3 separate regions of the Homo sapiens genome follow, and regions 2 and 3 are each linked to region 1. Evidence: fine-mapped QTL for protein levels in blood plasma. A gene starts in region 1. Each other region holds a variant in brackets. All regions are shown on one strand. Distances are from middle to middle.

Region 1 (10,071 bases):
TCGGGAAGCTGAGGCAGGAGAATCGCTTGAACCTGGAAGGCAGAGGTTGCAGTGGGCTGAGATCGCACCACTGCACTCCAGCCTGCTGAGAGAGCGAGACTCTGTCTCAAAAAAGAAAAAAAAATCAGCCTTTCCTCAACCCCATTGCACACTCAGCCTGGTAGTACAAGATGTTTTCTTTTTTCCCTCTCTCTTTGGAAATAATTTCCTTGAAAGAACTCTCGACACATCTCTGTCCACTTTCTCATTTCCATTGGTTCTTCAACTCCTGTGACCTGCCTTCTGTCCCCACCACTCCTGAAGGGCTATTGTCGGGGTCACCGAGGACTTGACTTTTGTGAACACATCCCCTTTACAAAGATCTCCCTTCAGGCTCCCAAAAGAGCCCTCTCCAGTGTCCTCTTGGGGCATGGCTGTCTATTCCTCAGTCTCCTTCCAACACTCATCTCTCCAGTTCTTAAATTTAGGTGGCATTCGCAGGTTCTCTCCTGGTGTGCCCCTCACTCTCTCCTTGGGTAATTTCATTCACTCATCACCTCACCTGCTCCCTTTGGTTCTCTCATCACATAGAGCTCCAGCCAACCCTGTGTTCATGACATGTCTCCACCCAGATGCACCTTAAACCAGAGGTTGGCAACCTTTCTCTGAAAAGGGTCAGACAGTGAATATATTTTGCTTTCTGGGCCATGTGGCCTATGTCTCCTCAACTCTGTTGCAGCACAAAAGTAGCCATAGGCAATACGTAAGTGAATAGATATTGCCGTGTTCTTCAAAAATTACAAAAGCAGGCCACATGGGCCACAGTTTGTGGCCCCTGCCTTAAACCACTGTCCTGACCTGCACATCGCCACAGGTTCTCCCCACCATGTTCCCTTTCTTGAATTTCTCCACCTTCACCCTATCACTGGAGCTGGAGGAACTCTTAAGTCTGCTTTCCCCCTCCCTTCCATCTACCTTTGGTCACAAAGCCTTCCTCTCCATCCCCACTGATGAGATCCTCTTACAGTTTTCATAATGTCTCTTGGCTAGCGAGGCATTCCCCTCTTTCTTTTAGGCTTCCAGCCCCCTGAGTTTTGGCTAGACATAGGCTACCTGGTGGGGACTATATTTCCCAGCCTCCCTTGCAGCTAGATGTGGCTGAGTGACTAGGCTTAGGCCAGCAGTAAGTAAGTGAAGTGTCTACTAAGACAAAACTGCAGATCCTGGACTTGTTCCACTGGAAATGGCAGCAATCAAACAAACCTTGGAAGGCATGTGTTAAATTTGAAGAACTTCCAGGCATGAACCTGGAAGACTGGTTCATAATAGAGAAGGTCTTTTTGTTACAGCAACTCAGCCCATACAGAGCCAGCTTGCCCACTACCCTCCCTGTACAAAGTCCCCCTGTCCACCAATCCTTTCTCAACACAGCAGTCTCTTACAGTGCAAATCTGATCATGACACTCCACACTTAAAAGATGAACAAGCAAATAAGAAAGAAGAGAAATTGGGCTGAGCATGGTGGCTCACACCTGTAATCCCAGCACTTTGGGAGGCCAAGGCAGGTGGATAATCCGAGGTCAGGAGTTCAAGACCAGCCTGACCAATATGGTGAAACCTTGTCTCTACTAAAAATACAAAAATTAGCCAGATGTGGTGGCATGTGCCTATAGTCCCAGCTACTCGGGAGGCTGAGACAGGAGAATTGCTTGAACCCAGGAGGCGGAGGTTGCAGTGAGCCAAGTTCACGCCATTGCACTCCAGCCTGGGTGACAGAGCAAAACTCCGTCTCAAAAAAAAAGAGAGAAATCACTGCCTTCAAGAGGATTAAAGCAGGATGAAGTGATAGAGGAACAGAAGAGCTCTTTTACATTGTATAGCGAGGGAAGGCCTCTGTGAAGGTGGCAGGGAGAAGGCAGCCATGCGATGTTCAAGGAAAAGATTTTCAGGCAGTGGGCACTAGTGCAAAGGTCTTGAGGTTTGGCTTGTCCCAAAAGCGAAAAGAGGAAGAGCGTGATTAGAGCTCTTATGATAAGTTCCCATTGCAGGGTAAACTCAGCCTCACTAGGGCATTGAAAAGGGCTGGCCATAACCTCAGGGTGTCTAGATGGGTCTAGCAAGCTGTTCCCTGCAACACTGTGGTGGGTGGGGGAAAGGAGGTTGGAGCTGAACACCTGCCTTCCTGTGGCCACGACATGGAGCCTGGGTTGGAGTGCTGTTTACTCCAGGGGCTCCTGAGTTGGAAGCACACAAAGGGCAAGCCTCTGTCTTAGAACTGGCCCTGTGGATTGGTACGGGGGCTGCGGACCCCACCCTAAGTCACCTCTCCAGCCTGATTCTCACCACTGCCTCCTTGCCCTTGACATTTCAGCAGTCCATAAACCTGCACTCCAGGATCACTCCTTTACAGGAAGCATTATCCTGCCTTAAGAATCTGCCCTTGGCCAGGCGCAGTGGCTCGTGCCTGTAATCTCAGCACTTAGGGAGGCTGAAGTGGGCGGATCACTTGTTAGGAGTTTGAGGCCAGCCTGGCCAACGTCGTGAAACCCCATCTCTACTAAAAACACAAAAATTAGCCTGGCATGGTGGTAGGCGCCTGTAATCCCAACTACTCAGGTGGCTGAGGCAGGACAATTGCTTGAACCTGGGAGGTGGAGGTTGCAGTGAGCCAAGATTGTGCCACTGCACTCCAGCCTGGGTGGCAAAGTAAGACTGTGTGAAAAAAAAAAAAAACCTACCTTTAGCTGGTTGTGGTGGTTCACATCTGTAATTCCAGTGACTCCAGAGGACAAGGAAGCAGGAGGATTGCTTGAGGCCTGGAGTGTGAGATCGGCCTGGACAACAGAGTGAGACCCTGTCCCTAAAAATTTTAAATTTAAAATTTAGCTGGGTGTGGCAGCCCATGCCTGTAGTCCCAGTTACTTGAGAGGCTGAGGCAGGAGAAGTAATTGAGCCCAGGAGTTGGAGGCTACAGTGAGCTATAATTACACCAGTGCAATCCGGTCTAGGTGACAGAATGAGGCCAAAACAAACAAACAAACAAACAAACAAAAAAAACACCTGCCCTTTACCCTTTCTCAACCTGACAAATTGACTGACTTGTCTTGAAGGTTTGGCACCACTTCTTGGAAGCTTCCTCTGCTCCCCACCTGGGGTGATGCCCTCTTCTGGAAGGCTCTCACTGCTACACACACAGTGGCTGCCGAAGCTCAGCCTGGCTTTAGTTCCAGCCCTACTAGGTCTTCTCAGGACTCAGGATATCCAGGTGGAAGGAAGGCTGTGCCAGGTACCAACTACCCTACGTGGGATCGCCAAGATAAATCCCTCACATTCAAACTAGTCCCCCAACATCCGTCAACCCTATTCCTAACAGCAAATTGCCACCTTTAGTCCACTCCACAGTGCCCTCTGGAAGGGTCATCAAAAGACAGTTATGACCATACCAAACTATGATTCTTGACACAGAATCAAAAGTTATTTTCAATTTATTTTTTTTCTATTGTAGAACAATAATAATAATATTTAAAATCATATTTTCCTGTGATATAATTAAAACTGTGTTATTTCAATTGAATTTGAAATAGAATTCATGGTCTAAAATAGACTGAATCCCACTGTGAACATATATTTGCATGCCTTCCTCGTCATCATTCAGTTGGTGCAATTGTAAGGCATGCAATAACAAGGGAAGTGAACATTGCAGCACTGTGGCCTGTGGCCACGGTGATGGCGGGACAGCCCCACAGAGGCCACACCAGGTGACTCTCAGCTCGGTGGGTGGGAGGGGGAGTGTCTCTGTGTCCCTCTGGCACACACATCCTCACACAACCTCACATAGTCTTTTTTGCATTTGCTAGGCCATCTCATAACACTTAGGCTCATAAAATTCTGGCTTCCTTTGGATTAACTAAACCCATGGTCCCCCAAGATGGGGATTCCAGGGAGCAGGAGGGAGCCTCGAGGCAGCCCAGACTCCCAGCTGCAAACCTCACTTTCCAGAATACCACTGCCACACCTTGGCATATACCAAATGTTGACAAAGAAGGCTGTTCCCGTACAAGGGCCAATTTTAGAGCAAGCACCCTGTGGTTGGAAAACTGTAAAACCCTCAGCCCCAAAGCTGTGTGTGGCGCTTTGTGCGTGACAGGGCTGGGGCAGATCTCTCTGAGGCACTCAGGAAAACCATTCCCTTTGCTTGTGGTGGGCGGCCCCTGGTGGCTGCTCTGCCCTTGCCAAGTGTTACGTGTCTAAGGTCTGTGGGCATGTTTCTCATTTGCTGCAAAACATCCTCCCCACCCTTGCAGAGAAAGAGTCTTTTGTGCAGCACCCTTTAAAGGGTGACTCGTCCCACTTGTGTTCTCTCTCCTGGTGCAGAGTTGCAAGCAAGTTTATCGGAGTATCGCCATGAAGTTCGTCCCCTGCCTCCTGCTGGTGACCTTGTCCTGCCTGGGGACTTTGGGTCAGGCCCCGAGGCAAAAGCAAGGAAGCACTGGGGAGGAATTCCATTTCCAGACTGGAGGGAGAGATTCCTGCACTATGCGTCCCAGCAGCTTGGGGCAAGGTGCTGGAGAAGTCTGGCTTCGTGTCGACTGCCGCAACACAGACCAGACCTACTGGTGTGAGTACAGGGGGCAGCCCAGCATGTGCCAGGCTTTCGCTGCTGACCCCAAACCTTACTGGAATCAAGCCCTGCAGGAGCTGAGGCGCCTTCACCATGCGTGCCAGGGGGCCCCGGTGCTTAGGCCATCCGTGTGCAGGGAGGCTGGACCCCAGGCCCATATGCAGCAGGTGACTTCCAGCCTCAAGGGCAGCCCAGAGCCCAACCAGCAGCCTGAGGCTGGGACGCCATCTCTGAGGCCCAAGGCCACAGTGAAACTCACAGAAGCAACACAGCTGGGAAAGGACTCGATGGAAGAGCTGGGAAAAGCCAAACCCACCACCCGACCCACAGCCAAACCTACCCAGCCTGGACCCAGGCCCGGAGGGAATGAGGAAGCAAAGAAGAAGGCCTGGGAACATTGTTGGAAACCCTTCCAGGCCCTGTGCGCCTTTCTCATCAGCTTCTTCCGAGGGTGACAGGTGAAAGACCCCTACAGGTAATACCCTTTCCTTTACTCATATACAGAGACTACGTGTATATACTTATATACAGAGACTACGTGAGAGGCACTTAGCACTTTCACAGCTGCTGCGACCACATCAGAGTCTCAGCGTGTGTTTGGGGGTGGGTTTGAGGCTGTCTGTTGCAGAGCAGTGTAGATGAGGTAGTTCATCCGGAGTGGCACTTGACCCTGGAGTTGCATAGGAATCACCTACAAGGAGCTCTAAAAATGCTGATGCCCAGGCCCCTCGCCAGACCGTTCCATCTATGTCTCCAACATAGTAGCGCAGGAATGTGGACTTTTAAAACTCTCCCCCAAGTGATTTGAATGTGCAGCCAAGGTTGAGAATCTCCTTGTGATGGAACCACCTCACTGTTAGACCGAGGCCTTTGGAATTCTGCCGGGTAACGTTTCCTAATGAACCAAGCATTTGCTGCAGCTGTTAGTGGCCGAGGTGCTATGTCATGGTGGAGGTGTCGCCACACCCCGTCTTGTTCTCAGTTTTTTCTCCTACAGTCAAGTTAGGGTGGGGAGTGTTGTGCACTGAGGAAAGTTTGAGTCAAATAGTCTTTAAAGTCTTTCTCACAGCTCTCAAAGCCTTTAATTGTTTTTTGTTCATCACAGAGGAGAAAATCTAATTAATAATAACAGATTTAATCAACTCCAAGTATTGCTTTTAAAAGACCAAACTTTTTCTTGTGGAAATAAGGCTTATTACTGATCTCTATCCTTAAATGTAGCAGCTTTCATTAATTTTGCACACCAGTAAGGAGTTCATTTACATGGGATTCTAGTCTTACTTGTGCACTTTGAGTTTAAAAGGAGAGTTTCTGAGTTTTTTTCATATTATCTATGTAAGAAAAATAGGAACAAAGCAGATTTCCTGATAAACAGCACTTTGATAACGAATACCACCAAACAAATAAGGCTTTTTCTACAAGCGCCCAGGCAGCAAGAAATGTTGGTTCACAACAAAGTTGTTTTGGTGTCTGCTGTTCTGGGCTGGAGGTTTTCTGCTTGTTTAAGATTTCAGATCTGTCCCAGAGGAGAAAAGGGGACACTTAAGCCAAAAAAAGTTACTATTGAGAGGAGGTCCTTTTTTTTTTCTTTTTAAAGTGATTTTTTTGGTCTTTCTACAAATAAGACATACAAATCATTTGAAAAATTCAAACACAACAGAAAAATACAAAGAATTTTAAAACTTCATCCATAATCCCACCACACAGAGATAAACAATGTTAACAGAAGAGTACCCATTTAGACATCCATCCATGCGTATTTACACAGACAGATGTACAGCGTATATACAGATGCATACAGGCGCTAAAGCTCAAAACAATATCTTGATCCTGCAGATAAGCTGCATAGGACTACTGTATTAGCTTGCTGGGGCTGCCATAGCAAAATACCACAGAATGGGTGGCTTAAACAGCAGAAATATATTTTCTCACAATTCTGGAGACTGAAATTCCAAGATCAAGGTGTCAGCAGGATTGGTGTCTTCTGAGGACTCTCTCCTTGACTCATAGATGGCAGCCTTCTCTCTGTCATTCCTCTGCGTGGGTCTGTGTCCTCATCTCTTTTTGTTAGGATACCATTCACACTGGATGAAGTCCCACCCAAACAGCCCCATTTTACCTTAACCACCTCTTTAATGGCCCCTATCTTTAAATACAAACGCTCCCTGAGGTACTGGAGGTTAGGACTTAAGTCTACGGTTTTTAGGTTTTGGGAGGGACACAATTCACACAATTCAACCCATAACAACAAAGAAAGAATTTTTCATCCCTTCCTTTTTTTTTCTTTTTTTTTTTTTTTAGATCTGACCTCTCCCTGACAGACAACCATCTCTTTTTATATTATGCCGCTTTCAATCCAACGTTCTCACACTGGAAGAAGAGAGTTTCTAATCAGATGCAACGGCCCAAATTCTTGATCTGCAGCTTCTCTGAAGTTTGGAAAAGAAACCTTCCTTTCTGGAGTTTGCAGAGTTCAGCAATATGATAGGGAACAGGTGCTGATGGGCCCAAGAGTGACAAGCATACACAACTACTTATTATCTGTAGAAGTTTTGCTTTGTTGATCTGAGCCTTCTATGAAAGTTTAAATATGTAACGCATTCATGAATTTCCAGTGTTCAGTAAATAGCAGCTATGTGTGTGCAAAATAAAAGAATGATTTCAGAAATACGACTTTAGTCTTCTTAATGAACGTGATACCTAGATGCTATAGGGATCATGTATACCCATGAAGTCACTATTATTTTATTCAGGGTGCCATCGTGCATTACACAGACTAGGTGGCTTAAAGCAACAGAAATGTGTTCTCTCACAGTGATGGAGGCAAGAAGTGCCTCAAGATGTCACCAAAGTTAGTTTCTCCTGGAGGGTCTCAGGGAAAATCTGTTCAATGCCTCTCTGTCAGTTTCTTAAAGTTGCTGGAATCCTTGACATTCCTTGGCTTATAGACATATCACTCTAATCCCTGCCTCTGTCTTCACATGGAATTTTCCCTTGCGTGTGTGTCAAATTTCCCTCTCCTGATAAGGGCACCAGCCATTGGATTAGGGTCCATCCTAATCAAGAAAGACCTTATCTTAACTCCATCATGTCTGCAAACACCCTATTCCCAAATAAGATCATATTCACAGATTCCAAATGGACATAAATTTTTGGTGGGCACTATTCAACCCAGCACAGCCACCATGCAGCAATAGCAACTAGCCAAAAAGATAGAGAAGTGAACCTGAAAAAGAACAACCCTGTACACTCAGCAATTAAATTAATCAACAGAGTTGGAAAGGAAGAAAATTAGATTTTATTAGACATACGCGAAAAGTGACTCACTTCTTAATTTCGTATTTGTCTTACCTAAGAACACATTAATAGTCTACTCTCTCTCTTTTTTTTCTAATGGCTATTTATTTATTCGAGATGGGTCTCGCTCTGTCACCCAGGCTGGAGTGCAGTGGTGCAATCTCGGCTCACTGCAACCTCCGCCTCCTGGGTTCAAGCGATTCTCCTGCCTTAGCCTCCCGAGTAGCCGGGATTACAGGCATGTGCCACCATGCCCAGCTAATTTTTGTATTTTTAGTAGAGACAAGGTTTCACCATGTTGGCCAGGCTGGTCTTGAACTCCTGACCTCAGGTGATCCGCCCGCCTCGGCCTCCCAAAGTGCTGGGATTACAGGCGTGAGCCACTGTACCTGGCCCACTAGTCCACTCTTGATGTACTTAAATTGTTTCCCCAACTAGCCCAGCAGTGCCCAACCCTAGCTACATAATGGAGTCACCTGGGGCAACTTTTCAAAAACACTGGTGCTTGGACGTCAGCACCAGAGGTTACGGTGTAACTGGCCAGGGATGGGGCCTGAGCATGTGCAATTTTACATTTCCCCTGGTGACTCTAATATGCAGCCAAGTTTGAGAAACACCGCCCTTAATTAATTGAATTAGAATCTCTGGGGTGTATCCTAAGTAATTTCCAGGCAATTCTATGTGTAACCTGAGTTGAAGACTACTAATATGGCCTCTATATGTAGTTCACACAATTAAGAAATATTTATTCATCATCAACTATGTCCCAGGCACTGTGCAACACATTGGCTAGGGGAGACATGAACTAACCAACTAGGTTTCACATCTTAGAAGTGCAGTGAAGTAGTGGAAACCAAGACAACACATTGATGAGTGTTGGAGATGACACAGAAGGCGGTGGGTGGGGGCAGCCAGGGGACGTTTGCTGGGGTTGAGTTTCTAAAATATATATACATCAAGCATCTACTGTGACATACCAAGTCTATTTCTTATAAGGGCTCTGAGCCTTTCACTCACCCCCTCATATAGCTCTCACTACATCCCTAGGAGGTAAGTAGTTTTATTCCCAATTATAAACCAAGGGACTTGAAAGTCTGGAGAGGTGAGTTGTACACAGCTTGTTAAGAGTCAGGACAGCAGAGAAATCCAGGTTCACCCAATTCTAATGCTCATGGCGTTCAATTTGTAAACATCACAGGATAGGCTGGGATTTGTCACAGACCATTTTTCACCAACATTTTAAACTAACATCACCATATAGCTGACCAGTGATTTTAAAGATGAAAATCTGTGCTACCCAAAGGGTGACAGGTGGGGCAGAGGCATCTGCTTCTGCTGGGGAGCTTTAGAAATGCTAATTCTTGGCCGGGGACGGTGGCTCATGCCTGTAATCCCAGCACTTTGAGAGGCCGAGGAGGGCAGATGACCTTAGGCCAAGAGTTTGAGACAAACCTGGCCAACATGGCGAAACCCTATCTCTACTAAAAAATACAAAAAATAGCTGGGCGTGGTGGTAGGTGCCTGTAATCCCAGCTACTCAGGAGGCTGAGGCAGGAAAATCACTTGAACTAGGGAGGCGGAGGTTGCAATGAGCCAAAATCATGCCCCTGCACTCCAGCCTGAGCGACAGAACAGGACTCCATCTCAAAAAAAATGCTAATTCTCAGGCCCCACCACAGACAAACTGAACCAGAGTATCTGGGGTGAGGCCCAGAAATGTGTATTTTAACATTTCCATGTGTTTTATGCAGAGTAACATTGGCCAAGCAATATTTCAGTCATCCTAAAAGGAAAGGCTTTGTTAAACCTTAAAGCAGATAATTCTGACATAGGCTACAATATGGACGAACCATGAGTACATTATGCCAGATAAAATAAGCCAGTCACAAAGGACAAATACTGCATGATTCCACTGATATGAAGTACCTAGACTAGTCAAAAATCACAGATACCAAAAGTAGAATGTTGGCTGCCAGAGACTATGGTGAGGTGAGAATGGGAAGTTAGTTTAATGTTTACAGAGTTTTAGTTTTATAAGATTAAAAGAGTTCTTGAAGTGGACAGCAGTGATGGTTGCATAACAAATGTAATTAATACTACCAAATTATACACTTAAAATTGTTAAGATGGCATATTTTATGATATACGTATTTTATTTGAATTTTATAAAGAAA
Region 2 (10,071 bases), 11 kb after region 1:
TGCAGTAGTGGCTGTCAATAGCTTATAGCCCCATAGAGGAGTGTCCTTAATATACCGGTCAGTTGTCACCAACCAGACAGCTTGCTGGCTGTACCCAAGAGTAGGTGAAAAAGGCATGTCTGGTTCTTACGAGCACTGAATAAGGCAAAGGTAATGGCTTTCCATATAGCTCATTGGGCTACGGGCTCCTCCTGCAGCAGCTCTTCCAGAGTTGTCTCTAGGGCTAGATGGCTGCTGCCACCAGGTGGACACCAGCACTTTTAGTCTTCAGTAAACCAAGCCCCAGCATCCTCACAGACTTCCTGGGAGTGGTCTCCAGGTAGTCAAAAGCTGTCCCTCTGAGTAATCAAGAGAGGGACAAGAAGACCCTAAAGGTGAGGTCTCAACTTACTTGTGTAAGGAGAATTATCTATGAGACCAGACTTGCCCTATGAAGTGTTCCACTTCCATTTAATATGAGAAATCTGTGCATTTTCGATTCTGCCCTTAGTACTTGAGGGGAACCTGACAGGTGGGGCTTTAGTTTTTACAAATAAGGCAAATAGTTGTCCAATTAATCAAATGGATGGATTTAAACTGGTGGCATTGACCTACATGATCTCCACTATACATTCCTGCACTTACGTTCAGCAATTCAAAGGTTATTTGATTTGGGGGGCATTTTGGACACTAGGACAATTATTGACATTTTTCACAATTATCAATCACACCTTCTGCAGAAAAAATTTAAGTGATTCCAGATGATGCATAAATTATGGCATCTAGCTGCTTTGAATAAAATGGCTAAGAAAAATATGAGCATAAAAATCCTTTGCTAGGTGACACAGTTTGGCCCTATCTCCACCCAAATCTCAACTTGAATTGTATCTTCCAGAATTCCCAATGTGTTGCAGGAGGGACCCAGGGGGAAGTAATTGAATCATGGGGCCCAGTCTTTTTCCCATACTATTCTCATGATATTTAATAAGTCTCATGAAATCTGATGGATTTATCAGGGGTTTCTGCTTTTGCTTCTTCCTCATTTTCTCTTGCCGCCACCATGTAAAAAGTGCCTTTCACCTCCCACCGTGATTCTAAGGCCTCCCCAGCCATGTGGAACTGTAAGTTCAATTAAACCTCTTTTTCTTCCCAGTCTCAAGTATGTCTTTATCAGCAGTGTGAAAATCGACTAACACAGTAAATTGGTACCAGTAGAGTGGGGCGTGGCTGAAAAGATACCCAAAAATGTGGAAGCGACTTTGGAACTGGGTAACAGGAAGAGGTTGGAACAGTTTGGAGGACTCAGAAGAAGACAGGAAAATGTGGGAAAGTTTGTCACTTCCTAGAGACTTGTTGAATGGCTTTGTCCAAAATGCTGGTAGCAACATGGACAATAAATCCAGGCTGAGGTGGTCTCAGATGGAAATGAGGAACTTGTTGGGAACTGGAGCAAAGGTGACTCTTGTTATGTTTTAGCAAAGAGACTGGTGGCATTTTGTCCCTGCCCTAGAGATTGAACTTGAGAAAGATGATTTAGGGAATCTGGTGGAAGAAATTTCTAAGCGGCAAAGTATTCAAGAGGTGACTTGTGTACTGTTAAAGGCATTCAGTTTTAAAAGAGAAGCAGAGCATGAAAGTTTGGGAAGTTTGCAGCCTGACTATACGATAGAAAACAAAAACCCATTTTCTGGGGAGAAATTCAAGCCAGCTGCAGAAATTTGCATAAGTAGCAAGGAGCCTAATGTTAATTCCCAAGGCCATGGGGAACATGTCTCCAGGCCATGTCAGAGACCTTCAGGGCAGCCCCTCCCATCACAGGACCAGAGGTCCAGAAGGAAAAAGTGGTTTAGGGGGCCAGGCCCAGGGTCCCCATGCTGTGCGCAGCCTTGGGACTTGGTGACCTGTGTTCCAGCTGCTCCAGCCATGGCTGAAAGGGGCCAATGTAAAGCTCAGGCTGTGGCTTCAGAGGGTGGAAGCCTCAAGCCTTGGAAGTTTTGAGTCTCACAGGGGCACCAGCTGCTGGGTCCATCCCGCAGACCCTGGCCAAGCGACAGATGAAAGGAGTACTCAGACACAGGCATGCAGTGTAAGAGCAGCTAGGGGGCTGCTGGCACTAGGGACCAAAGAAAAGAGCAGCCTCGATAAGCTGGAGCTGCTTGCTTTTATTTAGTACAGGCATAATGCCGAAAGCCTGGAGCAAACACAGTCTGTGGGTAATTAACATTTATTATTCTCCTTTTAGGGAACTGGTCACGCGCGGATGATCAAAGGTCTTTTTCTGGTCAAAATGAGTAAACAAGCCTATTTAGATAAATTCCCCTGCACTCCCTTGTACCTACTTCTCACCCACTGCCTCAGGGTAAGAGAACAGCTGCCTTTATCTTATTCTCCCTGAAGCTTTGCAGAGCCTTCTGACCTTTCCAAAGGTTTGTGCCCTTTGCCTATAATTTCTCCCACCACTTTGACTGATCTCCTACAGTGTTGAGCCTGCAGATGCACAGAAGTCAAGAGCTGAGGTTTGGGAACCTCCACCTAGATTTCTGAAGATGTATGGAAATGCCTGGATGCCCAGGCAAAGGTTTGCTGTAGGAGTGGGGCCTTCTTGGAGAACTTTTGCTGGGGCAGTGCAGAAGGGAAATGTGGGGTTGGAGCCCCCACACATAGTCCCTACTAGGGCACTGCCTAGTGGAGCTGTGAGAAGAGGGCCACTGTCCTACAGACCCCAGAATGGTAGATCCACCAACAGCTTGCACTGTTGTGTGCCTGGAAAAGCTGCAGACACTCAGCGTCAGCCCATGAAAGTACCCAGGAGGGAGGCTGTACTCTACAAAGCCACAGGGACAGAGCTGCCCAAGACCATGAGAACCTACCTCTTGTATCAGTGTGATCTGGATGTGAGACCTGAAGTCAAAGGAGATCATTTTGGAGCTTTAAAATTTGACTGCCTGGCTGGATTTTGGACTTGCATGGGCCCTGTAACCCCTTTCTTTTGGTCAATTTCTCCCATTTGGAACAGCTGTATCTACCAAATACCTATACCCCCATTGTATCTAGGAAGTAACTAGCTTGGTTTTACAGGCTCATAGGCAAAAGGGACTTGCCTTGTCTCAGATGGGACTTCATACTGTCAACTTTTGGGTTAATGCTGAAATGAGTTAAGACTTTGGGGGACTGTTTGGAAGGCATGATTGGTTTTGAAATTCAAGGACATGAGATTTAGAGGGGGCAGTGGCAGAATAATAAGATTCAGCTGTGTTCCCTTTGAAATCTCAACTTGAATTGTATCTCCCAGAATTCCCATGTGTTGTGGGAGGGACCCAGGGGAAGGTAATTGAATCATGGGGGATGGTCTTTCCCATGCTATTCTCACGGTAGTTAATAAGTTTCATGAGATGTGATGGGTTTATCAGGGATTTTGGCTTTTGCTTCTTCCCCATTTTCTCTTACTGCTACCATGTAAGAAGTGCCTTTTGCCTCCTGTCATGATTCTGAGGCCTCCCCAGCCATGTGGAACTGTAAGTCCAATTAAACCTCTTTTTCTTCCCAGTCTCGGGTATGTCTTTATCAGCAGCATGAAAACAAACTAATACACCAGGCATAAGAATGACACAGTGGACTCTGGGGACTCAGGGGGAAAGCGTTGGGAGGGGGTGAGGGATAAAAGAGTACAAATTGGGTTCAGTGTATACTGCTTGTGAGATGGGTGCACCAAAATCTCACAAATCACCACTAAAAAACTTATTCATGTAACCAAATACCACCGGTTTTCCAAAAATCTATAGAAATAAAAAAAAACTAAAAATCCTTTGTTGTGTTTCTAACTACTAATATGTAACATATTTTTGTGCCCCACAATGATTACAGTTAATAATCAGCACAGAGGAACTCTTAAAGGACATATTTTGCCTCTAGATCAAGCCTAATGCCCTTCTGTAGGCAGCTGGGAGGTTTTGTAGCTGTTCCTTAAACAACATCTTTCTTACCTTACCATGAAGTCATTAGCTATTGACACCTTAGAAATTAGAGCTGAGAAAGTCTTTAGACCTATTAAATGAGAGTGACCTGTTTTATGTGAGCACATATTCACCATCTCTCTCTAGCCTTTGAATTACTCACCCTTTGTCTCACACCTCCCTGGAAGTATCTGTTCCCTTTCTTTCTCTCCTTTTCTGTGGTCCTCTCTGCTTCTTGAAGCCAAACCAGGTCAGGCTGTGAACTGAAGAGGTACCAAGATTTCCCCTGTGCAGCTTTCTGCTGGACTCTTCCTAGAAGCATGCATCAGTTACTGCCAGATTTAGTTTTGGATTGTGGTATCACTTTTCATCTTTTTCCACCAGAGTAAGAAAAAAATACTGTATTTTCTCTACTAGAATGGGAGAGCTGGGCCTAACTTTAGCAAACGAGTACTTGTTGAAATGAAACACTTCAACAAACTTGAGGGAAGTCACTAAAGAAGTCAGTTTCCTCATCTTTATTTCAGGTGATAATAATGGCTACTCCTTATTGAGGACTATCGAGATCAGATGGGGCTGGGAGCAGTGGCTCATGCCTGTAATCCCAGGACTTTGGGAGGCCAACACAGGAGGATTGCTTGAGTCCAGGAGTTCAGGACCACCCTGAGCAAAATAGCAAGATGCTGTCTCTGCAAAAATAAATAAACAAACAAACAAATAAATAAAATAATTTTAAAAAGATCTAATATAGTAATAATACACAGTGAAGGGCTTTGACAATGATATTGTGCTATGCAGATTCATAGTATGATTATAAATCAGGTAGACAGATAAACTTGATGAAACAGGAAGGAAAAACTCTTCATACATCAGACTGGTCTTCCTGGATAAGGTTGCCACATGCTATCTCAATGGAGTCACAGATGCTTCTGAAAACTGGAAATATGAGTCTTGCAACCAAATCTGGGAAAGACATGAGCCTAAATCAGCCTGATCACTGCAAAATATGAAATCACATCACTGCTAAATATGGAAATTTGTCACAACATTTTGTTAGTGTAAGTTCTAAGCCTAAGACAAATTAAGTTGTTGAATTTATTCAGATAATTGTTTTAAAGGGAGAGTGAAACAGGTTTCTGGCCCCTTTTTTGTTTTCAGATCATTTACATTGAAAGAAGGGGGAACATGTTACTAAATCAAACCTGCCCCATGGGCAGGAGTCTAATTCTCTATCCCTCCCTTTGTCACACTCAGATGACACCGTCCTTCTGTAGGGTTTGTCTCCGCCATGTTTGAAATGGTGTACAAGTTCTCAGGATGAGCTGGTTATGGGATGCCTATACTGTTTTTCCTCTTCCAGTGCCCCAGTGGAATTTCTTCCCCTTGGTCATTCGGGAGCGGCAGCCTGTGTTATCTCAGAGTTTTCCAAGTGGTGACCCCAAAGGACTCCAGAGCAGGGCCTGGCTTGGGGTAGGGAGAATAGAGGACATTGGGCTAGAAGGGGGAGATGTAGGGATTCATGAG[G/A]CCATTAAATTAGCAACATATTGCCAGGCACAGTGGCTATAATCTCAGTGCTTTGGGAGGCCAAAGCAGGAGGATCACCTGAGTCCAGGAGTTCAAGACAAGTCTGGGCAACAAAATGAGACCCTGTCTCTACAAAAAAAACTTTAAACTTAGCTGGGTGTGATGGTGTGTGCCTGCAGTCCTAACTATTTGGGAGGCTGAGGTGGAAGAATCACAGGAGCCCAGGAATTCAAGGCTGCAGTGAGCCATAATTGTGCCACTGCATGCTGGCCTAGGTGATAGAGTGAGACCCTGTCTCTAAAAAATATTTATTTATTTATTTATTTAGAGATGGAGTCTTTCCAGGCTGGAGTGCAGTGGTGTGATCTTGGCTGACTGCAATCACTTCCTCTCAGGTTTAAGTGATTCTCAAGACTCAGCCTCCCAAGTAGCTGGGTTACAGGGGCTCACCACCATCCCTACCAGCCAATTTTTGTGTTTTTATTAAAGAGAAAGTTTTTCCATGTTGGCCAGGCCGGTCTCAAACTCCTGGCCTCAAGTGATCTCCCTGCCTCAGCCTCCCAAAGCGCAGGGATTACAGGCATGAGCCACCGTACCATGCCTAAAAAATATTTTAAAAGAAAAAATAAAAATTAGTAATATTTATTGTAAACAAATGTACAATTCATTTTCAAATGACCGTAGATAGCATTGTGGTAAATAAAATGCAACTGTATTTAAAGGCATTACCAATCCCATGTACTATTGTGCCACTTTTTGTTTTCTTTTTTCTTTTTTTGATAGAGTCTCACTTTGCTGCCCAGGCTGGGGTGCAGTGGTGCAATCTCGGCTCAGTGCAACCTCTGTCTCCTGGGTTCAAGCGATTCTCCTGCCTCAGCCTCCCACGTAGCTGGGAATACAGGTGCCCACCACCAGGCCAGGCTAATTTTTGTATTTTCAGTAGAGACGGGGTTTCACTATGTTTGCCAGGCTGGTTTCTAACTCCTGACTTCAGGTGATCCACCTGCCTCGGCTTCCCAAAGTGTTGGGATTACAGGCATGAGCCACCGCACCCGGCCGTGTGGCACTTTTTGATAACATAGGTTAAGTGAATACATTTTTTTGAATCAATGACCTGTTTTGGACTCTGGCCCATCGTTCACTAGCTGTCTGGTTTTGAGTGATCTTTTATTTTCTCCTCTCCATAATGTGAATAATAACAGTACCTGTCTCCTAAGCGTGATTCAAGGATTACATGAGATTATCCACACAAATTCCAAGGAGTAATAGCTCAAGTGGTAGCTGCTGTCACTCTTACCATCACATTGTTTCTCAGTCACAGTTTGTGATTGAGTGCTGCGACGGGCAGGTCTGCACAGAGTGTGGATGTTGTAAGAGGATCCTCATCCTTGGCAAGGTTGACAGCCCCTGGTCTGGATGAAGCCTAAGGTGAAACCTTGAATGTTCCCCCGCAAACCTCTTTGTTGACCTTATCCGTAGCTTTCTTCCAGCACAGGCAATTACATTATAGGTTCTCTCCCTTCTGGGAACAGCGCTCTCCTTCTGGGAGAATAGTTGCTCCTCCTCCAAACCCAGCTGCATGTTTCAGAGGCCTGGGCCATTCATCATAGAATCCTGCTCTTTGGCCATGGTTGACAAATCCAATGGCAGGAATGCGACTCAAGACCAACCTATCATATCTCTCCCTGGGATTGTTCGCACTTCTGCTTGGCTTGGAACTGGTGACACCCGTGTTTCCCACGAAGTAGAGAAAATTAGTCCGAGAAAACAAAGTACAAATGCGGAGAAAAGCTGAGGTGATACAAAACCAAGCATGATGGTGACATTCATGTTCCTTAATCTATGAGACTGGGTGGTCGTATTAATCATGTGCTTTTATTTTTTCAACTCATGCTGTTTTGATACCTTTGGGAACCTGATAAATTCAGGGAGAGACAGACCTCCCTGGGTTAGCTAATTCCTAAAGATGACACAGTATGTTTGGGATCACGCCTGTCACATGTAAACCAACCATTCCCTTTATCTAACTCTCACATACCAAGCCAGTATTAACCCTTACCCTAAATCTACCTGGAGACAGGACCAGACAGCCACACCACGTGCCCCAGAGCCTGCTGGAATTATTAAAACCAGCACATCCGAGACCATATTCTCCATCCAGCCTCAACTTTCCCTCGGAAACGATGATAAGGGCTCTGGCCTAGGTGTTCCCTCGCTCCTGCTTTCACCACCTGACCCAAACCTCATGTTTCTCCTGCTGAAGCCCTGTGTGCTGTGGCATGCTCCTTCTCTTTGGAAAGGTGAGTACAGTCATGCCTGGGTATTTAAGGAGGATTAGTTCCAGGACCTCCATGGGTACTCAAATTTGCAGATGCTCAAGTCTCCTCTGTAAAATGGCATGGTATTTGCATATAACCTATGCACATCTTCCTGTATACTTTAAGTCATCTCTAGATTACTTACAATACCTAATACAACATAAGTGCTATGTAAGTCATTGTTATAGTGTATTATTTATTTGCATTATTTTTCATGGTTTTTTTTAAATTTTTTAAAAAATATTTTTGATCTGCAGTTGATTGAATCCACAAATGTGAAACCTGTAGATACGGGGGTGTGGGGAGGAGGTAACTGTAGTAAATTATTTTTTCAATGGCACCAGCCTCTTTGTGTCATCATTCAGTCACGTTCATGAGTTAAAATCCCACAGGTACGTTTTGGGACAGTTGAGCAGCCGGCAAGGTGACTCAGTGTTCCATAAGGACCGTGCCTCCTTCTGCTCTTGGCTCGTTAGCTGACTGTGCCAACCACATATACTGTATTATCTTTAGGAATTAGCTAATCCAGGGAGGAATTAGCTCTACTTGGGAGGGCATTGCCGGCCGGTGGGGTGCCTGTGCTTTGGCTGCCATTGCCTTGTGCTACCTCTGCTGTGCCCTTTCACAGTTTTCTAGTCTAAACTGTGGCAAGGGAAGGACCTCAGATCTTGCTTTGCACAGGTAGTAGTACCATTGGGAGTGAGAGAGGTCCCCAGTGCACACCTTACTGGACCAAGTGACCAGGCAGATGTGAGGTTAAGCAGGCAATTTGGGTAATTAGTACAGTAAACGCTTTCTGGAGAGAGGAGGAGCAGGGAGTGGCTGCCCCTAGGGTGCTTTGAGGGCACCGAGACTGATGACCTGCCTGCCAAGACCGTAGACAGGGCTCACCATAGAGAATTCAGGAGCTGGGCATTCAGGCCCAGGCACAACTCCCTTCTTGTAACAAATCTTCTCTTACTCTGGTGGACAAAGTCCTGGACAAGTGAGGTCCTCCTTGAACAGTCCATCACAGGTTGACATTGACTGTTGGGCCCCTGAGCATTGGGACTCTATGAAGATACTCACCCATTTGATTCCAAATTTAGACAGGCCCATCTCTAATGGTTGGCGGCGAGGTGTAGGGTGTCTCCCCATGGAAAACTGTGACTCCTAGAAACCTTAAATATTGCTATATGGGCAAATCTCTTTGTTGTTACTGGCCTTGCTGCTATTGTGACCTGAGCCCATGACCCTCTATACTCATTATGTTTTGGGTCATAGGTACAGTACCCACAAGCTTCACACAGCTACTGAGGGCATCTTAGACAGGATGGAGCCAATACTGGGTCCTTGGGCATATTCTATCTCTATAGGGTTGTAGCTTTGTTCATTCTCAGTCACCTGGTAGATGTCATTGTGCTACAGGAGATTATAGGTCTCAGAAAACTGGTGTTGTTGAGATACAAAATGGCCTCCTCAAACAACTTCTTTTAAAATTTCAGGCCATCAGATAAACACCTAAATGAGTTTCTTTTTTGCCCAGGACTTAAGGTGTCTTTATAAAAATTCCATCTTGCCTCCATCACGTAAGGGGAGGAGGCCAAATGTAGGGCCCAAACTCTACAGGGATCAATTACCATAAATTGTCCCAAGGGCTAGGCAGATATGAGACTGATTTCTTCTATCATAATTGAAGCTACCTGGTGTCATCCTGCACACCATTCTGTTGACTTTTGATTTTATTACTCTTGGTCTGTGCCTTCCCAACAAAGCTCATATAGAGGCATGGTCCCCAATGTAATGATGTTGAGAGGCATTACAGGCATTTGGGTCAGGAGGGATCTGTCTTCATTAAAAGATTAATGTTGTCTTGTGGGAATGACTTCTCACTCTCATGAGAGTAGATTAGTTAACACAAGAGTGGGTTGTTATAAGGCTAGGTCCCATTTGTGTTTGGTTTCCTTTGCACATGCCTGTTCACTGCTCTCACAGGCATTCTCACCACTTGATGCTATCCACCATGCTATGTTGCAGCATGAAGCCCTTCCCAGATGCAGCTGCCCAATCTTAAACTTCCCACCATCCAGAACAGTGAGTCGAATAAACTCCTTTTCTTTATAATTACTTGGTCTCAAGTATTCAGTTATAGCAACAGAAAATGTACTAAGAAGTCAGTCTGGGTTCTTTCATTAATTTATGATCCAATGGCTCACACCCTCCTAATAAGCCATTGCTTTAACCAAACATGGCCAATGGTAAGACTCACATCAACTCCACTGGGTACTTAGTTGGGAAAGATATGGCCTTCCAAATGG
Region 3 (10,071 bases), 29 kb after region 1:
GTGTTATAAAAACCCAGTCAGCCTGGCTCCTGTTGAATAGTCTACCCCCCTTGCACTCTACCTGACACAGCTGCAGCCTGCAATTCACTCGCACTGCCTGGGATTGCACTGGATCCGTGTGCTCAGAACAAGGTAAGAGCCTCGCTCCTTTAACAGCTTTATTACCTGCTGCCACTTCTCACTCCACCAAGGGCCTGGAGTTCCTTGGGCCTGCATTCCATCATGGGCAGGTGGGGGCTGAGCCCCAGGGCCGTGAGAAATGACTGGGTGTTTTTCTGGCATATCCAGTCTCCTCTTCACCATTTATTGCTGTTCTCTGCCCTTTTGTGATTGTCTTTCTCCTTCTTAACCCTAGAAGATGGCCAACTTCTAGGGTAGAAATCAGATCAGGACCATTTCCTGGGTCTGCCTCTTTTTATAAAAAATTCTGTGTTTTGTTTTAAATGGAGCACAAATAATACAAATCATCTTATCATTATGTGTTATATGAAACTAAATTGTCATTGTTCATAGTTGTTTTTCTTATTCTTTGGCAATGTTTTTAAAGGGCAGAGTAAATGTGAAAAGCAAAAAGTGATCAACCAGGGGTGACAGAAAGGAATAAGGAGATTGATCTGGCTACCCATACCAGCTTTGAACTTGCCCACTATGAGATCCTGAGCAATTTACTTACCTGTCTGAGCCTTAAGAGTCAGAGCTGTCACCTGGGATGACATATTAATAGCTACCTGGAAGAGCTCTTGTGTGGATTTCACAAGGTGGGAATCAAACCCTAGACCAGTACTTAGCACACAGGAGGTGTCATATAGAAACTGACTTCTCTTCTTCTGTTAAGCATGGGTTTTTATTGTACACATGATCAGATTCATGCAGTTCAGTGTGACGTTGGTGTTCATCCTATTGATTCAATGATTTCTCATGATCCTTGTCTTCGATCTTGTAGTGTGAACTATCTGGTTGAAATTCACCTCTCTCCACCCTGATTCACTTTGCCCAGGCAAATCAGACAACCACCCCACCTCACACCTTTCCTTAAACTCTTACTTCCCCACAAAAAGCTCCCCCACCCCCACAACCCCACCCACCCCACCCAAACCCCAGGCATGTTCAACTCTGGGTCAACATCACCTTTCATGATGCTTACCACATCCTTTCTCATTTTGGGCATCTGTCATGTCTTTTCTCATTTTGGGCATCTGTGTCCATATGGAGTCATGAGATAGAAATCCAGCCCTTTGGAGCTGAAAGTTTGGAGCAGTAACTTGTTTCATATCAGAAACAGAGATGACGGGATAGATTCCCTGATCAATGCTATTTAAATTCTCCCAAAGAGTGGTCTCTAAGCTCTTTCAAATCTGAGGCTTTCTCAATCATGGTGATTTCTTCAACACCTAGTCTGGTGGGGGGCATATAGTAGGTGCTCAGTAAATGCTTGTTGAATGAGTGAATGAAAGAGTGAGGAGTGAGCAGATGCAGGAGTTAATGAGTGAATAAATGATAAATGAGAGTTCGTGAGGCTCCAAAGAGTGGTACTTTTGTGACACTCAAGACTCAAGTCAAGTGGAAATGTGAGTAGACAGGCTGTTTGTCTAGTGACTCCAGGAGCCAGAAGCGTTCTTGGTCTACTCTGAAATCATGTAGGCACCTGTCAGGGTAGGGGGAGGCCAGCGTGTAGTCCTGCACAGCTGAACTGCTGCCTGCCACTGACTCACTTGCCTTTTGTCAAACAGGTGAACGCCCAGCTGCAGCCATGAAGATCTGTAGCCTCACCCTGCTCTCCTTCCTCCTACTGGCTGCTCAGGTGCTCCTGGTGGAGGGGAAAAAAAAAGTGAAGAATGGACTTCACAGCAAAGTGGTCTCAGAACAAAAGGACACTCTGGGCAACACCCAGATTAAGCAGAAAAGCAGGCCCGGGAACAAAGGCAAGTTTGTCACCAAAGACCAAGCCAACTGCAGATGGGCTGCTACTGAGCAGGAGGAGGGCATCTCTCTCAAGGTTGAGTGCACTCAATTGGACCATGAATTTTCCTGTGTCTTTGCTGGCAATCCAACCTCATGCCTAAAGCTCAAGGATGAGAGAGTCTATTGGAAACAAGTTGCCCGGAATCTGCGCTCACAGAAAGACATCTGTAGATATTCCAAGACAGCTGTGAAAACCAGAGTGTGCAGAAAGGATTTTCCAGAATCCAGTCTTAAGCTAGTCAGCTCCACTCTATTTGGGAACACAAAGCCCAGGAAGGAGAAAACAGAGATGTCCCCCAGGGAGCACATCAAAGGCAAAGAGACCACCCCCTCTAGCCTAGCAGTGACCCAGACCATGGCCACCAAAGCTCCCGAGTGTGTGGAGGACCCAGATATGGCAAACCAGAGGAAGACTGCCCTGGAGTTCTGTGGAGAGACTTGGAGCTCTCTCTGCACATTCTTCCTCAGCATAGTGCAGGACACGTCATGCTAATGAGGTCAAAAGAGAACGGGTTCCCTTAAGAGATGTCATGTCGTAAGTCCCTCTGTATACTTTAAAGCTCTCTACAGTCCCCCCAAAATATGAACTTTTGTGCTTAGTGAGTGCAACGAAATATTTAAACAAGTTTTGTATTTTTTGCTTTTGTGTTTTGGAATTTGCCTTATTTTTCTTGGATGCGATGTTCAGAGGCTGTTTCCTGCAGCATGTATTTCCATGGCCCACACAGCTATGTGTTTGAGCAGCGAAGAGTCTTTGAGCTGAATGAGCCAGAGTGATAATTTCAGTGCAACGAACTTTCTGCTGAATTAATGGTAATAAAACTCTGGGTGTTTTTCAGAAATACATTCAAACATTGCTTGGTTTTCTCTGTGTCTGGTCCCAAATAAACTCATTAAGTAGTCCCCATATATCAATGGAAAAACAATCTAAACAGGAACTTCCAGTTCCCCACCCTTCGCAAGTTATCTCTTTCTGGAATCCTTCTTTATAATTGTATCCATTGGTCAGTGGTGTTTGGTGTTTATTGAAGTATAATAACTAGGATCCCTGTTTTCAGGTGGGACACCTGGTATATAATGTGATTAAATCATTTGTCAGGGACTCATAGATGGTAAGAGGGCCGGTAGGATTGGAACCCAGGAGCTCTGACAGCTGAGTCTACAGGGTTGAGGAACCTCCGCTACTGATTCATGTCAGAGCTGCCCATTCCCTCCCCCACCCGAAAGACCCCGGCCTTGCAAAGCTCAATTCTGGAGAAGAAATGAGTTTCATTCCTTCATTCTTCATTCTTGGAGAAGAAAGGCCTAGTTAAGTACAGTGGCCCAAGATAAGGGCTATAAAGGAAGGGGGAGAGGGCTACAAGGAAAACCAGAGAGAGAAGGCAGAAACTGCTGTAAGATCTGGGCTTGAGTGTAACAGGGGAGGGAATAGTGGAGCTGGATTTTGGAAAGAGTATCTGTGGGAATAAAATGGGGCAAAGTGGAGGCACTTTAGGCATTTGATAACATGAATGAAAGTGAATAGATGGGAAGTTTCAGATTCTGGGAGAGGTCAGGTGTCTGGGATCGGATGGGATGCAGCGATGAGACTGCCATTATTCATTTATATGTTAGTATGAAGGATCTGAAAGTTGTATTTTAAGAGTGGGGGAGAGAGGATGAACTGTCTCCAATGCCTTGTCACAATTCCACAACCAGGGAAAGGAGGAGCAGAAGCTGACGAAAGCACTGTTCTTTAGCATGTCTGATGGTGGCAGGGAGGAATGGCAGGTGGGGGGGAAGGAAAGCCTTTTACATTCACCAACCTACTGGGATGCACACTGAGGACGTCAGAGGCCAATCCACAGTGCCACAGCCTCAGAGTGACATTTGGATGTCATCATGATCATCAATAAAAAGAGCACTTATCTCTTACCTGCTATGAGCAAGCACTGTTCCAAGTTTTCCCATGGATAGTGGATTTATTCATTCACTCACTCACTCAACACATAACTTACAGAGCACTGACTCACTCCAGGTTGTGTTCCAGGTGCCAGAGATACAGCAATGGATGTACAAGAGACGAGTGTTCTGCCCTCATGGAACAGTGGGAAAAGTGATGATGAGCTCATGATACATGATACACGATAGAGAAGACTATTAAAGCAAGGGAAGGGGATAAAGTGATCGAGGGTAATGAGCTTTAGATGGGGTGGAGAGGAAAAGCCTCTCTGTGGTGGTTACTTTTGAGCTTAGACCTAAAAAGAGGAATCTCTTTTTAGCCAGGGAACTCTCCTGGGTAAGCATGTTCCAAACAGAGGGACCAGTCAGAACATATGCCCTGAAATCATGGTTAATCTATTTATTCAATCCTATTTGTCCCTTCTTTTTGCCAGGAACTCTACCATAGGTGAGAAATAGCAATGAAGGAAAGAGAAAAAAGAAATCCCTGTCTTCATGGCACTTCCATTCCCATGACAGGGATCATGCTTGGCATGTTAGAGAAATGTCCAAGAGGGTGGGGTCATTGTAGGATGGGGCCTGGGGCCTGACCTGTGAACCTTACC[A/G]CCAACTCCAAGAGCACTGAAGCAACATTCCAGACCCTCCCCAAGCTCCTTCAAGCCACAGCAAAGAAAGGATATTTTCCCTTAAGGTCTACACAGGTTCTCAGCCCTGTGGCCCCCTCCTCCACATATGTAACATAGCCCTGAGATAGAAAAAGAATAATAATCTCCTCCAGGAGTCACTCAACAGTCATCAGGTTTGTTATGGGTTGGCAAGAACATTGGAGAACAGACCCAAAACCTCCTTAAACTCCTCCAGGCCCGCAGTTGCTGGTTTGAGTTCACTCCTGGCCTCTGGTCACTGGCAGAACTGGAAGGAGTTTTGCCTCTACCATGGAAGAGTGACCTGGATCTCAGCACAAAGTTTGCTTCTGCTGATAGATAACCAGTCTCAGGGCCAATTATTTAATCTTCTGAGCAGAAATGAGCTCATCTTGACAATGGAATCATGAAACCCACCCATTATTAAGGGTCCTGAAACACTGACATTGGTCAATATCTCTGAATCTCTTAATACTATGCCAATAGTTAGATAATAGTTGTTCAACACCACTGACCACTTAAAGTCCACAGCAGGAGACTGAATTGTAGAGGGAAGTCAAAATTCCCAGTGAAAACTCTCTAACTGTGGAAGGTTTTTGGTTTTGTTTATTTGTGTCTGTAGTACAAGTGGCCAGGAGCCACCATTATGGATCACCCACTGTGTGCCAGTGGTTTTGCTCCATTGTCTCGTGAATCCCCCACAACTCCATCTGGTAGGAGTCTCACCTTCATTTTCTAGATGAGGAAAGTGAGGCTGAGAGAAGCCGAGGAACCTTCCCAGGGTTATGAAGTTATTAAATGGCAGAGCCTATAATGGGAATCCCTGGCCTGGAGGTCCCAAGCCCTTTCTGCCTCTGAAGTGCATGATTTTCTTCACTCAGTGATAGAAGAGTGACATTTATGGTCTCTGGATGTAGGCCAAACTTGACAATGAACAATATCCATCAGTCCATTCCACATATATATCTTCTTCCTGTCCTTACAGAGAGAAAGTTCTAGAAGTGAACACTTCCATTGCACTCAGCCTCCGATCATAGTCATATGCTGAGGGGATGTTTTAAGAACACAGTAAAAAGAAATATGTAAATAGAGGCTCCACAGATTTACATTGACTTTCTTTTTTTACCTTTTTTCTTTTTCTTTTCCTCTTTTTTTTTTGAGACGGAGTTTCGCTCTCGTCACCCAGGCTGGAGTGCAGTGGCATGATCTCAGCTCACTGCAACCTCTGCCTCCCAGGTTCAATCGATTCTCCTCTCTCAGCCTCCCGAATAGCTGGGATTACAGGCACCTGCCACCACGCGCAGCTAATTTTTGTATTTTTAGTAGAGACAGGGTTTCAACATGTTGGCCAGGCTGGTCTTTAACTCTTGACCTCAGGTGATCCACCCGTATTGGCCTCCCAGAGTGCTGGGATTACAGGCATGAGCCACCGTGCCCGGCTACATTGACTTCTATTCACCTTAGTGCTACATATTTTCTCCCTGAGAACTTTCTGGATATGAAGTAGAGAAGCCAACTTTCTCTGTGTGTGTGGTCTTTAAGATATGACTTGTTTTGACAGCAAAAGATGGAAATTTTTCGGTAGGTAAGATGTGCTGAAGATTGGCATGTCTGTACCCCCTAAAGCCACTCAGAAGTGGGAATGTCTCTCTTTCCTTATAAAACCACATCTCGGCAGAAAGAGGGTCTCTTCCTTCGGGCACCCCAGCTCTGTGTGGTAACTCACAGTCACACCAGTGCTGACTTGAATCTCTGGAATCCAACAGATCTCACCTAGCCTCCTTCCCCAGCCTCTCTCCGAAGTTGTTTTTGGCAGAAATGGCAGGAATGCCAAAGTGTTTGGGGCTGAAAGCTTTCAAGCAGATATGACACCAGCCATCCTCTGATGTGTTGGTTTGCATAATGTGCTGTGTACAATGCTCACCATTTCATGCAGCAATATCCAAGAAAATCTTTTTGAGACTCCCTCTGAAGAATGGGAGGGATGGGGAGAAGATTCTAGAAGAAGGCTGGCTTGGGACCTGGAGCGCTTGAGGTGAGCTCTCCAGGGGGAGTTTCCATAAAGTAGTTGAAAATGTGTGATATGGTTTGGCTGTGTCCCCACCCAAATCTTATCTTGAATTGTAGCTCCCATAATTCCCACACATCATGAGAGGGACCCAGTGGGAGGTAATTGAATCATGAGGGGCAGGTGTTTCCCATGCTGTTCTCATGATAGTAAGTCTGATGACATCTCATGATTTCATAAAGGGTAGTTCCCCTCCGCAAGCTCTCTCTTGCCTGCAGTCAAATAAGAGATAACTTTGCTCCTCATTTGCCTTCTGCCATGATTGGGAGCCCTCCCTAGCTATGTGGAACTGTGATTCCATTAGATTTCTTTCCTTTATAAATTACCCAGCCTCAGGTATATCTTTATTAGCAGCAAGAGAACAGACTAATACAATGTAGGTAATAACAGCAGAAATGAAATCTGTCTTGTCCACCATCATAGCCCTGGTGCTCAGTGCATGCCCAGCACACAGTGGATCCTCCATAAATATTGGTTGAGTATATGAAAGAGAAGGAGAGAAATCACTGCAGGGGCAATGATTACGGGCTCCAGAGTAAAAGAAAAGTGACCTGTAACAAGTTATTTCATCTCACATTTTCCATTTCTAAAATGGGTCTGGAATATGCATCCAATAAGAACTATTCATAATTAAAACCTAAATCTAGGTCCTTACACATATGTATTCTCATTAAATTTTTGTTATAAGTAAGTGAATGAAGGAACCAATTAGCTGAGACAGGAGATAAGAAGGCAATTTTTGAAAAAAAGCTACACCAGACTCAAGATAGGCCATGCCAAGGACCTGCCTGTGAGATGGAGCCTGGCTGTGTGCAGCATGATCATGGGGTTCCTAAAGCCTCTACCCAATGGGCCTTAAGAACCCCATGCTCATGAAGTTCACAGAAGCACTTTGCATGACGAAGGAGGAAGATGGAGACAAAGCTGGCGCCTATGAGTAGCCTCTGCGACTTTCTTAACCTGACTTCCAGCTCACTTCCTACAGGCTCCTCCTGCTCAGGCTCCTGGGTGGCTGGTTGTCCTGGAGACCCTCCTGTGGGTACAGCAGCCCCTACCTTCACTGCTCTTAGATCTTGGTGCTCAGGGGAGCCACTGATAAGAATCAGGATGCCACTTGCTGTGGGCGCTGGGTGAGCAGAGAATGGATCTGCTTCGCTTCCTACTCTATTCTTAGCACCCACGCAGTGCATGGCAGCTGCTCAATAAACCTCAGAGGTTACCGAAGCGTTTCTCAACCTCGACAAAGTTGAGAGTTTGGGCTGATAATTCCCTGGAGTAGGGAACAGCCCTGTGCATACTTGGCTGTGGAGTAGCATCCCTGGCCCTAGTACCTAGATGACTGTAGCAACCTTCCCCCTGTTATGACAACCAAAAATATGTCCAGAAGTTGCTAAATGCCTCCTGGAGATGAAGTTACCCACAGTGGAGAACAACTGGACTACGGTGAAGTTGTAGCACATTCACAATTCACTTAGGCTCCTTCAACAATATGTGTCCTGCTGTGGAGGGGGAAAGAGAGAAGTGTAAAGACATGAATACTGTAAGCAACTTAATCCACCCTTGGATGCAGTGAAAATGTGCCCGGGGTGTACTTAAGATAGCGGATGGGAGTTTGCTTCTTTTCTGTCTGTCTCTGGTCTTCCAGTGTTTAAAAATAGGTATTTTATTTTTGCTCTAAATGCAAACCAATGCCTTTATCTGGTACCCAACAAAAGAAAGGTTGTCAAATGTGATTTTGACTAAAATAAATTTTACAAACATAAGCACTGCCTCCAGAACCTGACTGCCAGGCACAATGTGATTTAGTAGTGGCACATTTGCTACCAAATGCTGTCAGCACTAGCTTCCGAAGTAAAGCAACAGCCCCCTCCCATTGAAAGTAGCCAAGGTGAGTGATGTCATAGGAGAGTCCCAGAGTTATCTAGGGCCCCTCAAAGCTGAAAGTGCCACCTCCTTCTACACCCACTCCCATTAACACAACTGTGAATTCAGTTCCTGGAATTGTCTTTCCTGGACTGAGTATGAAGCTTGCTCTAAGCCAAACATTGGTAGCCCCAGGGTAGGCTGGGGTTTTGCAACGGCAGGAATCCAAGGACCCAGATGGACCATCCTGGCATATGTGCCCATGTTGTTGGAAAAGCCCAAAGCCAACCCCTTAGTCGCTGGGAAACCAGGCAGGGCAAGGGTGGGGAGGGGAGTGGTCATGGCTTCAGAGCAGAAGCAGGTGTGGGGGCCAGACAGGACAAAAGAGTTCTAGCCAACATTTATTAGGTGCTTCCTGCATGCTAGAGGCAGTGGTTCCCAGCCCTGGTTACAGGTTAGAATCACCTGGGGAGCTTTAGAAAATCCTGATGCCCAGGCTGCACCCCAGAGCAGTCCCATCAGAATTGTAGGGGTGGACAGCTCAGGAATTTTTAAAGCACTCCGAGCGATCGCACTGGACACCCAAAGTGGAGGTCCACTCCTCTGGGCACTGTTCAAACTGCTTTCCCTGCATAAGCTCTTTCATCTTCACGACCACCCTATTGTCAAGACTGTCCAGGGAGTGTAAGGAGTTTTGTCACTTTCCAGGGTCACAGAGTTAGTAAGAGCAGAGCCTGGAACCTCCCCGGGCAGCTGTGCTCTCAAGCACTCATACTGGAGCAGAGGAGTCTGCCGGGGAGGCAGCCCCAGGCAGTGGAATGAGCAGAGCCCTGGGTTTCAAATTCATTCTGCCTCCCACTGTCTGGGGAGGCCTCAGACAGTCATTTCATTTCTCTGATTGTCTTAGCCTTCTTGTCTGTGCTTTGGGGGAATGTTATCACCACGGCAGAGTGCAGGGAGGATTCGGTGAGATGGTGTTTATGAAGCTCCTGACAACATTTCTGGGACATAGCCCAGTGCTCGGTTATTTATCCTTATTATTAGACCACGTTGCCAAAAATGGGTCAGCAGGTGGAAAAGCAGATATTGAAAAGGATCATCAAGAGACATTGACATCCTGGGCCAGGCACAGTGGCTCACGCCTGTAATCCCAGCACTTTGGAAGGTTGAGGCGGGCAGATAACCACAGGTCAGGAGTTTGAGACCAGCCTGTCCAACATAGTGAAACCCTGTCTCTACTAAAAATATAAAAAAAATTAGTCAGGCGTGGTGGTGGGTGCCTGTAATCCCAGCTACTCAGGAGGCTGAGGCAGGAGAATCACTTAGACCTGGGAGGTGGAAGTTGCAGTGAGCTGAGATCGCACCACTGCACTCCAGCCTGGGCAACAGAGTGAGACTCTGTCTCAAAAAAAAAAAAAAAGAGAGAGAGAGATTGACATGCTGAGGGGCAGGTGTCAGTAGTCAAATGCAAAGGCAAAACAGAGGCAGCGTCCAGGAGGGAGGACCACGTAGTACAATAGACATAAACATGCAAGAGGGAACAAGGCCAGGATGGCTGGGGGCATGGGAAGGGGCCATGCCAGGCAGCACCTC

Direction of the effects. Alleles are on the strand shown, and positions count from the first base shown. The strength of an association depends on the size of the effect and on how common the allele is.
For the plasma level of the protein whose gene starts at base 4,338 in region 1, allele G in region 2 goes with a lower level than allele A (moderate association).
For the plasma level of the protein whose gene starts at base 4,338 in region 1, G is the high allele of the variant in region 3 and A is the other (weak association).

Evidence for each region. PIP is the chance, under the fine-mapping model, that this variant and not a neighbour inherited with it causes the effect. Protein levels are from antibody-based Olink assays in UK Biobank. Linkage for the fine-mapping came from a reference panel and not from the study's own genotypes, which makes the PIPs less certain.
Region 2: its variant is fine-mapped to the plasma level of the FGFBP2 protein (UK Biobank, PIP above 0.99).
Region 3: its variant is fine-mapped to the plasma level of the FGFBP2 protein (UK Biobank, PIP above 0.99).

Annotation. Positions count from the first base shown.
Region 1 is chr4:15,957,442-15,967,512 of GRCh38, reverse strand. It overlaps FGFBP2 (fibroblast growth factor binding protein 2), which reads left to right and starts at 4,338. Exons shown (of 2, transcript NM_031950.4): 1 at 4,338-5,075; 2 at 6,902-7,268. The coding sequence starts at 4,384. The coding sequence ends at 5,055. RefSeq lists an enhancer at 3,467-4,308.
Region 2 is chr4:15,946,027-15,956,097 of GRCh38, reverse strand. No RefSeq gene overlaps it. Among named protein-coding and RNA genes, the nearest start is that of FGFBP2, 12 kb to the left of the region's middle. The variant G/A (reference allele first, on the strand shown) is at 5,457.
Region 3 is chr4:15,928,312-15,938,382 of GRCh38, reverse strand. It overlaps FGFBP1 (fibroblast growth factor binding protein 1), which reads left to right. Exons shown (of 3, transcript NM_005130.5): 2 at 1-132; 3 at 1,731-2,806. The coding sequence starts at 1,751. The coding sequence ends at 2,455. Among named protein-coding and RNA genes, the nearest start is that of FGFBP1, 5.4 kb to the left of the region's middle. The variant A/G (reference allele first, on the strand shown) is at 4,509.